Regions from separate parts of the Homo sapiens genome. Here region 2 is linked to region 1. The links come from fine-mapping of genetic effects on gene expression. A gene starts in region 1. The other region holds a variant in brackets. All regions are shown on one strand. Distances are from middle to middle.

What was found. PIP is the estimated chance that this variant, and not a neighbour inherited with it, causes the effect.
Region 2: its variant is the best candidate, but not a certain one, in a credible set for the expression of PGM2L1 in fibroblasts (GTEx, PIP 0.73).

Annotation. Positions count from the first base shown.
Region 1 is chr11:74,396,156-74,401,539 of GRCh38, reverse strand. It overlaps PGM2L1 (phosphoglucomutase 2 like 1), which reads left to right and starts at 3,107. Exons shown (of 14, transcript NM_173582.6): 1 at 3,107-3,489. The coding sequence starts at 3,379. It overlaps MIR548AL (microRNA 548al), which reads right to left and starts at 2,303; the gene lies at 2,207-2,303. RefSeq lists enhancers at 2,123-2,743, 2,643-3,012, 2,744-3,365, 4,457-4,956, 4,957-5,384.
Region 2 is chr11:74,271,859-74,277,242 of GRCh38, reverse strand. P4HA3 (prolyl 4-hydroxylase subunit alpha 3) reads left to right here. Exons shown (of 13, transcript NM_182904.5): 9 at 99-258; 10 at 3,636-3,698. Among named protein-coding and RNA genes, the nearest start is that of P4HA3-AS1, 37 kb to the left of the region's middle. The variant G/A (reference allele first, on the strand shown) is at 2,651.

The sequences.
Region 1 (5,384 bases):
TACAATGGTGGTCCCATAACATTATAATGGGGCTGAAAAATTCCTATGACTGAGTTGATGTCTTGATGATCCTCACCCAGTGTAGGCCTAGGCTAATGTGTACGGTGCTTATAAAGTCTACAGTAGTGTACAGTAGTGTCCTAGACCTTCCCATTCCCTCACCACTCACTCACTTACTCACTCAAGAGCTACTTTCAGTCCTGCAAGCTCCATTCATGGTAAGTGCACTATATAGGTGTGCCATTTTATATTTTTTATATCATAATTTTTATACCAAAAATTGTACCTTTTCTATATTGAGATATGTTTAGATATCCAAATGCTTACAATTGTGTTACAGTCCCCTACAGTATTCAGTACAGCAACATACTGTACAGGTTTGTAGCCTAGGAGCAATAAGCTGTACCATATAGCCTAGGTGGGTAGTGGGCTATACCACCTAGGTTTGTATACTCTATGATGTTAAGATGACAGAATCACCTAATGATGCATTTCTCAGAACACATCCCTGTTATTAAGCAATGTATGACTGTATACGGGGACCAAGAAGGATATTCTTTTTCATAACCACAGTTAATGTTGCCAGGCTTAGCAAATAAAAATGCAGGATGCCATGGGCAAATTCCAACAGAAATGAAAGCTCTGAGCTTTCCCAGACTAGGGGAACTACTACACTTCCTCTGCTGAACACACTTAGACACTGCTGTTGGATTTGATGGGTTCTGGGTCTCCTTGGTTACCCTCCAACATCCAAACAATAAATCTAATCCGCTGGGCAAGATTTCTGGTAAGCAGTAAATGTCTGCTATGATCTTGCTGATAAAAGTGAAGGTTAGTTGACTCTTTTTTTCCATGTCTTGAAAGCTCTGTTGATTTGGTAGTGTTTCTCAGAAATGAACTGAATAAGAATTGTCTTATAAAAAACACTGTTTAACAAATTTAAATATAACTCATCATTAGATCTTGTTAAAATGTAGGTTCTGATGCAGCAGAACTGGACTGGGGTATGAAATTTTGTATTTCTTAATAAGCTTCCAGAGGACATCAGCACAGTTGTCCTCCTAATCACACTTTGAATTGTGACAGTCAATAGATATTTCAAATATGCAGGTACCTAGGCCCTATGCCAATGTATTGATTCAGAATCTCTGGAGGCAGTGTCCAGGAATATTAATTTAAACAAACTCCTAGGGAGATATGAGAACCACTGATCTATGGGTTTGAAATATCCTCTATCTTATTCTCAACTTGTTTATTTTGTTTCTGAAAGCCCAGTGCAGGTCCCTCCTGCTTGATGCTTTTTTCATTGACCACCTCAGATGTAAATTCATTAACAGTTGTTGGCAGCACTTGCTATTTATCATGGGCTTTCTTTTCTTACATATATCCTGTCTCCTCAGATGTTACTTCTCGAAGTGAACAATTATATAGATTCTTGTAGCCTCAGCTCCTACCATAATGCTTAGCAGAGAGTAAATGTTTAATATGTATCATGGATAATAATGGTGATGGTAGTGGAAGATGAATTTCTCTCCAGGACACGTGACTGTTGCCCAGGCCTTGTGTGATTAAAAGAACAAGAGTCCTGCTGACTCCACAAAAGAAACAATCGTTAGCAAAAACTGCAACTCCCAACTATGGCACGTTTTTCAGAAACTGGTACCACAATCCTTTTGTACCTTGGTAGTTTGAATTTTATTATGGTAAATGGCACTTTAAAGGAAATAAAGTAATACTTTGAACTTAATATGTCTTTTATCTGTGAACCTCAAAGCAGCCTAATGCCATTTATTAAGTTACTGTACAGCCATGATGTAAATATTATCATACCTTCCTTACAAAAAAGCTGACTAGGGAAAGAGTTGTAATGTACTTGCCCAAAATCATAGCCATTCTAAGAAGGCCAAACCAAGAAACGGAGGAGTAGCTAGGTGGCTGACAGGTCAGCACTTCTCAGCATTTCCCAGACCTCAACTTAGGTGAGCTTTCCATAGGAGAGACGGCTAAGAAGTAACGGAAGACTATTTCAATTTGGGTGAACCAATTTCCTTTTCCTCCGTATTCCCATTACCATTGCTCTTGGTATCTTGTGATGCTTATACATTCTTATATTTAGGTTAAATGCCGACCATCTTCCCTCAACAACTTCCTTATCTATTTTCCAGTAATCTTGTTCTCCCTACCTCCTAGTTTACTATAGCAGCAGAGATATTAGATTGGTACAAAAGTCATTGCCGTTTTTGCCATTACTTTTAATGCCATTATTTTTAATGGCAAAAACAGCAATTACTTTTGCACCGACCTAATAAAATAACTGCCAGCTGAGGGGATCTGAAATGAGATTGGAACCCTAGTTTGACCGCTCACGAACTCGGCCTCTTAGGAGAGGTGTCTCAGGGAGTCAGTTTCTTCTTTGTGTGTGAAACGGAAAAGGACTACGCCCCTGTACCTTACTGAGGGATTGAGGCGATAGAACGCGATTCGTAAACTGCACAGCACTAAACGGATACCACTTTGTCCCCTTACTATGTCATTCCTTGTTTAATTTAATGCCAGGGCCACACAGCGCAGCATAACTAATAGGGATAGGGCGTGTCTGTAGGGAACTACCTCGAGGTAGATCTTTTTCTTTTGAGGAAAGGGGGAACGCGGAGCTGCTGGGAGTCGTAGTCTCGGCGGCGGTCTCCGCTGAGCTCAGACAAAGGAAAGAACTACAACTCCCGTGAGGCAGTGCGCGGACAGCTCGCACTGCCCCTCCTCCCCCAACCGGCGCGTGCCCCCAAGAGAAACTGGGGGCCTGCGCGCGCGCTGGGGACCTGCAGGGCAAGCGCAAAGGCAGCTTGCTAGTGGTAGCCGTGAGAGCAGATCGAGGAAAGGAGACCCTTGGCAAATTAAAAAATAAAAAGAACCGTGCACTATTGCCTCACCACCCGGACGGGCTGTAAACCCCCACTACTTCGGAGGCGTGGGGAGCGCGCTCCCGGGCTCCAGTCTAGAACTTCGGGGACTTAAATCAGCAAGGGCGGGAAGGGGCGGGGCCTAAGGCGCGGGGCGGGGCCGTAGGCGGGGCGGGCGGCGGCGGCGGCGGCGGAGCCAGGACCCAGACATCTGGGACTGTTGTTCTCTCGCGGCGCGACCGCCTCAGTCACTTCGCCCAGAGACCCGGACCTGGTCCGCTGGGGAGCAGGCGGCCATAAACCCCCTCTCTCCCGGTTCCCTGACGCCGCGGCAGGAGCTGTTACGAACACCCTGCGGTTGGTCTCCGATGCCCTTCAGTGAGGTGGGGACGCCTGGACCCTGGTGAGCGAACCCCAAGCCACCCCCCACCCCAACTCAGTGTCTTCGCCGGCCCCCGGCCCGTACGCCTGTCTGGTCGCCATGGCTGAAAACACAGAGGGGGATCTGAACTCCAACCTGCTCCACGCCCCCTACCACACCGGGGACCCTCAGCTGGACACGGCCATCGGGCAGTGGCTCCGCTGGGATAAGGTGGGTACCTGGTCAGCCCGGCAAACGCCGTCGCCTCCCCCACACAGTCTGCTCTTTCCTGTGCCCACCCAGCGCCCCGCGGGCTGCAGAGGAGATGGCTCGGGACACCGAGCGGGGGGCAGCGGAGCAGGGCGTTGCCACCCACCTATGCGTGGGGTTGCTCCTTCGGACTGCCAGAGCCGGGCGGCAACATCTGCATCGCTTCCTTCTGCAGTGCTCTCAATTGTAACCTCCCTTCCTCTTCTTTACCCTCTTTCCTTTCAAGTGCTGTCTTCCCTCTTTCTTCAAAAAAAAAAAAAAAAAAATCATCATCATTGTAAGTTATACCCTAAACAACGATTTCCTTTCCCTTTTTCTCCCTTGACTTCCTTCTCCACATACCTGAAAGTGGTTTCTGGCACCCTTACTGGGCGTTTCTAACCGCTATCCGCTTTAGTTCTGGTCTGGTGTGTTTCCTCCTTCTGTCGCTAGGTAGTTGCTGGCCTTTTATCACTCCCTGGTATTGTCTAGTATCACCTTTTGCTGTTGGGAAAGGCAAGGCGCTTACCTCTTCTTTCTCCTGCTGGCAGCTATTTTCTGGAATTAATCTGTTCAAGGAATCGTGTTTTCCAGGTTTCATGTGGTACTCTTAATACAGGATTGTTTTTGCCTTAACCATTACTTCTCTACCAACACCTCCCCACCCACCCTCCGCCCCCACCTCCAAGTTGTGGTGGTAATTAAACCTCGTGCGGGCATTTGGGATGAATTTGTGACAATCAGAATTAAAATGCAGCTATCTTACTTGTAAAAGAGGTCCCTGGTAGCTCCAACAGAGGAAGATAATCCAAGCTTTTGCTTTGTCAAGTGCGTAAAATACCTTTGTTGAAGTAGAGAAGGCAGCACATTTAAAATGGAATTAATGACACTGAATTAAGGAATTTGTATGGTAGTATGTGACATTATGTTGTACAAATGAATTTCCTTAAGGCTTCACTTTCTGAAAGTTTTGTTTTTACTTTATTCATTCATTCATTCAGCAAAAAAATATTGAATGCTGAGTGCGTGTTTTAGGTCTTGTTAGACCCAGGAAATACTTGTGAGGAAAATAGAAAGGGTTCCTGCCCTCAACAAGCCTCAGTTAGCAGATGAGGAAGACCAACAAATAAGCAACTACAATGAGGTATTTGGTGTTAATTGGTCATATGTATATTGGACGAATAATTCTTCCTCTACAGTCTAAACTAATGCTTCTCAAACCTTAATGTGCTTATAGATCACCTGGGGATCTTGAAATACAAATTCTGATTCAGGAGGCCTGGGGTGGGGCCTTGGATTCTGCCTAAGAATGAATTTCCGGCCGGGCGCCGTGGCTCAGGCCTGTAATTCCAGCACTTTGGGAGGCCGAGGCGGGTGGATCACGAGGTCAGGAGATCGAGACCATCCTGGCTAACATGGTGAAACCCCGTCTCTACTAAAAATACAAAAAATTAGCCGGGCGCGGTGGCGGGCGCCTGTAGCCCCAGCTATTCGGGAGGCTGAGGCAGGAGAATGGCTTGAACCCGGGAGGCGGAGCTTGCAGTGAGCGGAGATCGCGCCACTGCACTCCAGCCTGGGCGACAGAGCGAGACTCCGTCTCAAAAAAAGAAAAGAAAAGAAAAAAAAAGAATGAATTTTCAGGTGATACTAATGCTGCTGGTCTGTGGACCACACTTGGAGTAGCAAGACTTTTTGTTCTCTTTAGGTGCCAGTTTTAACTGTACTTTTCCTAATGAGTCTCCTGATTGATTTTTTTTTTTTTTTTTAAACAGGGTCTCACCGTGTTGTCCAGGCTGGAGTGCAGTGGCGCGATCTCCGCTCACTGCACTCACTGCAGCCTTGAACTCCTGGGCTCAAGTGATCTTTCTGCCTTAGCC
Region 2 (5,384 bases), 120 kb after region 1:
AATTAACATAATTCATTTGTTTATTCATTCATTCAGAGACGTCATTTAGTCATTTCGGGCAACAGATCATTGATGCTTCAATCTGTGGTGTGTTTTAGTGCCTGGCTGAAGGACACTGTTGACCCAAAACTGGTGACCCTCAACCACCGCATTGCTGCCCTCACAGGCCTTGATGTCCGGCCTCCCTATGCAGAGTATCTGCAGGTGGTGAACTATGGCATCGGAGGACACTATGAGCCTCACTTTGACCATGCTACGGTAATGGTGGAGTCAATGACCAATCCCCTGGGGTAGGGAGCCAGGGCATTATTTATTTCTCTGAGGCAGAGCTCTTGTAGGCTCTCAGGGAATACTAAGTGAAATCTTAGAACAAAGGTTCTTTTTCCAGAAATATCTGAAAGCCTTAGTTTCAAGCATATTGTTGCTGACTCATTTTCTTGTCTGCCACCATCTCCCTTCTAAAATTTGCTGGTGAGGGAAGAATGTGGCTTGTCATGGAATCATCGGACTGCTCCACTCAGGGACTTCCTAGTGAGGATTGTCCTTCCTCCAGTAACTCTTCTAGCCTCATGATCTCAACTGGCCATCTTTGCTGATAATAGCAAATAATTTTTTTAAAATTTTAGATTCATGGGGTACATGTGCTTGTTTTTTATTTACGTATTTATTTATGTATTTATTTTTTTCTTTATAGGCAGCATCTTGCTCTGTTGCCCAGGCTGCAGTGTAGTGGCACCATCATAGCTCACTGCAGTCTTGAACTCCTGGGCTAAGTGATCCCCCCATCTCAGCCTCCCAAGTAGCTCTAGGACTACACCTGGCTAATTTAAAAAAATTTTTTTTGTAGAGACAAGGTCCTGCTATGTTGCCCAGGCTTGTCTTGAGCTCCTGGGCTCAAGCGATCCTCCCACCTCAGTCTCCCAAAGTGCTGACATTACAGGAGTGAGCCACTGCACCCAGCCATACTTGTTATATGGGTATTGCATGTGTAATGGTGGGGACCACACTTCTAGTGTACCCATCACCCAACTATTGAATGTTTTACCTGACACGTAATTTTTGAACTCTCACTCCCCTTTCACCCTCCCCCATTTTGCAGTTTCCAGTGTTTGTTACCTCCATCTTTATGTCCATGTGTACCCATTGTTTAGCCCCCACTTATAAGTGAGGACATGCAATATCTTATCTTCTGCTTTTGAGTTAGTTCACTTAGGATAATGGCCTCCAGCTCCATCCATGTTGCTGCAGAGGAAATTATTTCATTCTTTTTATGGCTGGATAGTATTCTGTTATGTATATATACCTTATTTTCTTTATCAAATCAACCATCGATGGACATTTAGGTTGGTTCCATGACTTTGCTGTTGTGAATAGTGCTGCAATAAATATCTGGGTGCAGGTGTTTTTTCTGTAATATAATACTTTATTTTCCTTTGGGTAGATACCCAGTAGTGATTTTTGAGGATTAAAATGACCTCCCCAAAATTGATCTATAAATTGAACCCCAGCTTTATAAAAATTCCAGGAGGTTTATTTTTGTAGAAATTAGCATGCTGATCCTAAAATGTATATGGAAATGCAAAAAACCTAGAGCAGCCAAAACAATTTTGAAAAAGAAGAACAAATTGGAGGACATACACTATCTGATCTCAAAACTTAATATAGAGCTACAGGAATCAAGGCAGTGTGGTACCAGTGTAAGGAGAGACACATATGTCAATGGAACAGAACAGAGTCCAGAAACAAACCAACACATTTATGATCAATTGGTTTTGACAAAGGTGCCAAGGAAATTCAATGAAGAAAATACAATCTTTTCAATAGACAGTATTGGAACAATTTAATATCTATCTGCAAAATAATAATGACTTTACACCCTTACCTTACACCATATATGAAAATTAACACAAAATGGGTCATAGATGTAAATGTAAAACTATAAAACTTCTAGAAGAAAACATAAGAGAAAATTTTTGTGACCACAGGTTAGGCAAAGATTTCTTAGATATGACACCAAAGTATGATCCATAAAAGAAGAAAACAACTGATAAATTGGACCTTATCAAATTAAAATTCTTTGCTTTTCAAAAAACATCATTAGAAAAGGAAAAGACAAGCCACCAACTAGGAGAAAATATTTGCAAATCATATATTTGGTAAAGAACTTGTATCCAAAATATCTATAGAACTTTTATAACTCAGTAATAAGATAATTCAATTTTTTTTAATGGACAGAAAGTTATTTGAGTAGGCACCTCTCCAAAAAGGATAAATGAATGGCTAAGAAACATATGGAAAGATGCTCAACATCATTAGGGAAATGCAAATTAAAACCACAATGAGATAGCACTGCACTCTCTTATGATGGCTACAATAAAATAAGATTATACCAAGTGGTGGTGAGGATGTGGAGGAACTGAAGCTCTCATACACTGCTAGTGGGAATGCAAAATTATACAGACACTTTGGAAAAAAGTTTGATGGTTTCTTAAAAAGTTTAAGATTCACCTACTTATGATCCAGCCATTTCACACCTATGTATATTACCCAAAAGAAAAAGAAAATATGTCTCTACAAACATTTGTACAGAAAAGTTTATAGTAGCTTTATTTGTAATAACCAAGAATTGGGGCTGGGCACGGTGGCTCAT[G/A]CCTGTAATCCCAGCACTTTGGGAGGCCAAGGCAGGCGGATCACGAGGTCAGAAGATCGAGACCATCCTGGCTAACACAGTGAAACCCCGTCTCTACTAAAAATACAAAAAAAAAAAAAATTAGCTGGGCATGGTGGCAGGCGCCTGTAGTCCCAGCTACTTGGGAGGCTGAGGCAGGAGAATGGCATGAACCTGGGAGGCAGAGGTTGCAGTGAGCTGAGATCACGCCACTGCACTCCAGCCTGGGCAACAGAGTGAGACTCCATCTCAAAAACAAAAAAAAAAAAACAAAAAAAAAACCAAGAATTGGAAACAGCCCAGATGTCTGTCAACAGGTGAACGGATAAACAAATTTTGATATATCTGCACAATGGAATGCTATAGAGAGAAAGCAGATAAGTGGGTTGCCTGAGGTTGGAGGTGAGAGCAGGGATTGACTCCTAACTGGCATGAAGGAGCTTTTCAGCAGATGGAAGTGTTCTGTGTTCTAAACTTCAATTGTGGGAAAACTCATTGAACAGTAGGCTTACAAGGGGTGAATTTTATGGAATATAAATCATATCTCAAACTGTTCCATGACAAAAAAAAAAGAGTATGTCTCTTCAGCAAGTAATTGGAACTCTGGCCTTATGATTTGGTATTTCTACAGAATAATTGTCTGTAATATTTTATATATTAATTTCTATATTTCACAGAGAACTCAAAGGTGCAATTAACCCCTCATATAGTACTTTCACTACTGACAAGTAGTTCTGTTTGGTAGTAGACAATTCTTTTATATAAGTATCTAATAAATTAGTAAAAAAAAAAATTGTATTGAGTACCTGCCAGCAAAGACGGGCACATACTCCAGTAGGTGTATATCAGAACTATATCCCATCTTTGATGCCCCCATTTTACTTCTATTTGTATTAATAGTGGAATCCTGCCTGTCCCTCTGGTGCCATCTGCATAAAATAATATGTTCTGTTTTTTTTTTTCTCAGTCACCAAGCAGCCCCCTCTACAGAATGAAGTCAGGAAACCGAGTTGCAACATTTATGATCTATGTGAGTATTGCTCTGGGCTTCTTACTTCATGACTGACTATAGCTCTACTTTATTTTATTGTTTTCAAAGCAATTTCACGTATTGATTTTATCTGGTACTCAGCGCAAAAATCTCCAGGAATTTTGCGAATTTCAGACAGCATTTTTGATAGGCACTGTAGGAGATGTAAAGAAATACAAGACAAGGTTTCTACCCTGAAAGAGGCTGACAGTGTGTAAATCTAAATATGACCTTGGTATGGGCAGTGGATTAGGATGGGAAGTGGAGCTCCACTGAAGGCCAAGAGATAGAGGGACTTGAACAACACAGGAGGAGGATCTGAGAATCTGTGTCCTTGAGGTCTCATGGACTAATCAGTGTTGAAAAACAACCCATAGATGAGGTTGTGGGGCTGTGGGGAGGGAGATGGATGAGGAATGAGGCAGCAGATTTACAAGAGGGAAGAACAGAGACACTGAGAGAAATTCAGCAAGTGCTGCCTCTGATGTTTAGTGAAAATTCTCTTCCTTATCTCTCTATAAAATCTTCAGTAAAATCTCCATGACTCCCCTTTCAAGATAAACCAATAAATTGTACTTCTCTCCTAATTCCTGGCCTGATCAGGATTCGGCCCCAGTCTGTATCATCTCACCTGTCCCCTTCCCTTCAGATCATGTGGGTTTACTTTCGTCTCTATGGACAAGCTTCCAATCACCTGTCACTGGAAGAGAATATTAGAATTAATCACTTATTAGAAGAGATACCTTACTGTTAACTGAAGGGACAAACATATATAAGGGTTCTATATAACAACCAAAGATGAAGTCCTTGTTTCAGCCTCATTAGAATAGCAGACATCCCTCACCCCAGCTTTTCCTCTTCTATTAGGACTGTCTCTGGTCTCCACAGGACAGCCAAGAAAGGGCAGTCAGAGGCCAGCATTCTGTGTAGTCTTTAATGCCAGCAATTCCAGTGTGTTTCTCTATGTGGCTCAGTTCTGTACTTCCTATGGAACTGGAAGGCTTCCACTTACAATGGTGTCTGGCCTCATTCTGATCATTCTGAGGTCAGCTATCAGGCAGGGGACACATCTTGGAGCTGCAGTTGGTTGCATCTCTGGTTGACCACTCCAGCTGTTATGGGAGGTCACAAACGGCGAAAGAATGAACTGCTGCCAAAAAACAGGGCATCTAGGGCACAATATATCTCTGTTCTTTATCCCCTCAATATCTCCTATGGCTGGTTCCCTGGTTACAGGGCCCCAGTTACTATAGCGAAGGTAGCGTGGGTATAAGAGCCCAGTAATTTTAAATGGCAAATGCATGTGTGTGTGTGTGTGTGTGTGTATGTGTGTGCATGCACTCTCATGCACTTTCACATGTGTGTGCATGCATGTGCATTTGGGTTTTAAGTATTTGAGACAGAGTGGAATGGAATACACTTTGGATTTGGAGTCAGTTGACCTAATCCTGATTTTGCCACTTACTATGTGGCCTCAGCACAGATTACATCTATTATGTGAGCTCACTTTTTGCCCTGTGCTTCCTCACAGTGTTGTTGTGAGGGTCTGATGAGATAATGTAAGGAGGGATGTCACTCTGGAAAGTTCCATACTGTATGTTTCTGTCATTGTATCCCACAGAGCAATTAAAGGAAAGGGTATCATAAAGGGGAATCAGTATCATGGGACCAGGGAAGTGCTAGATT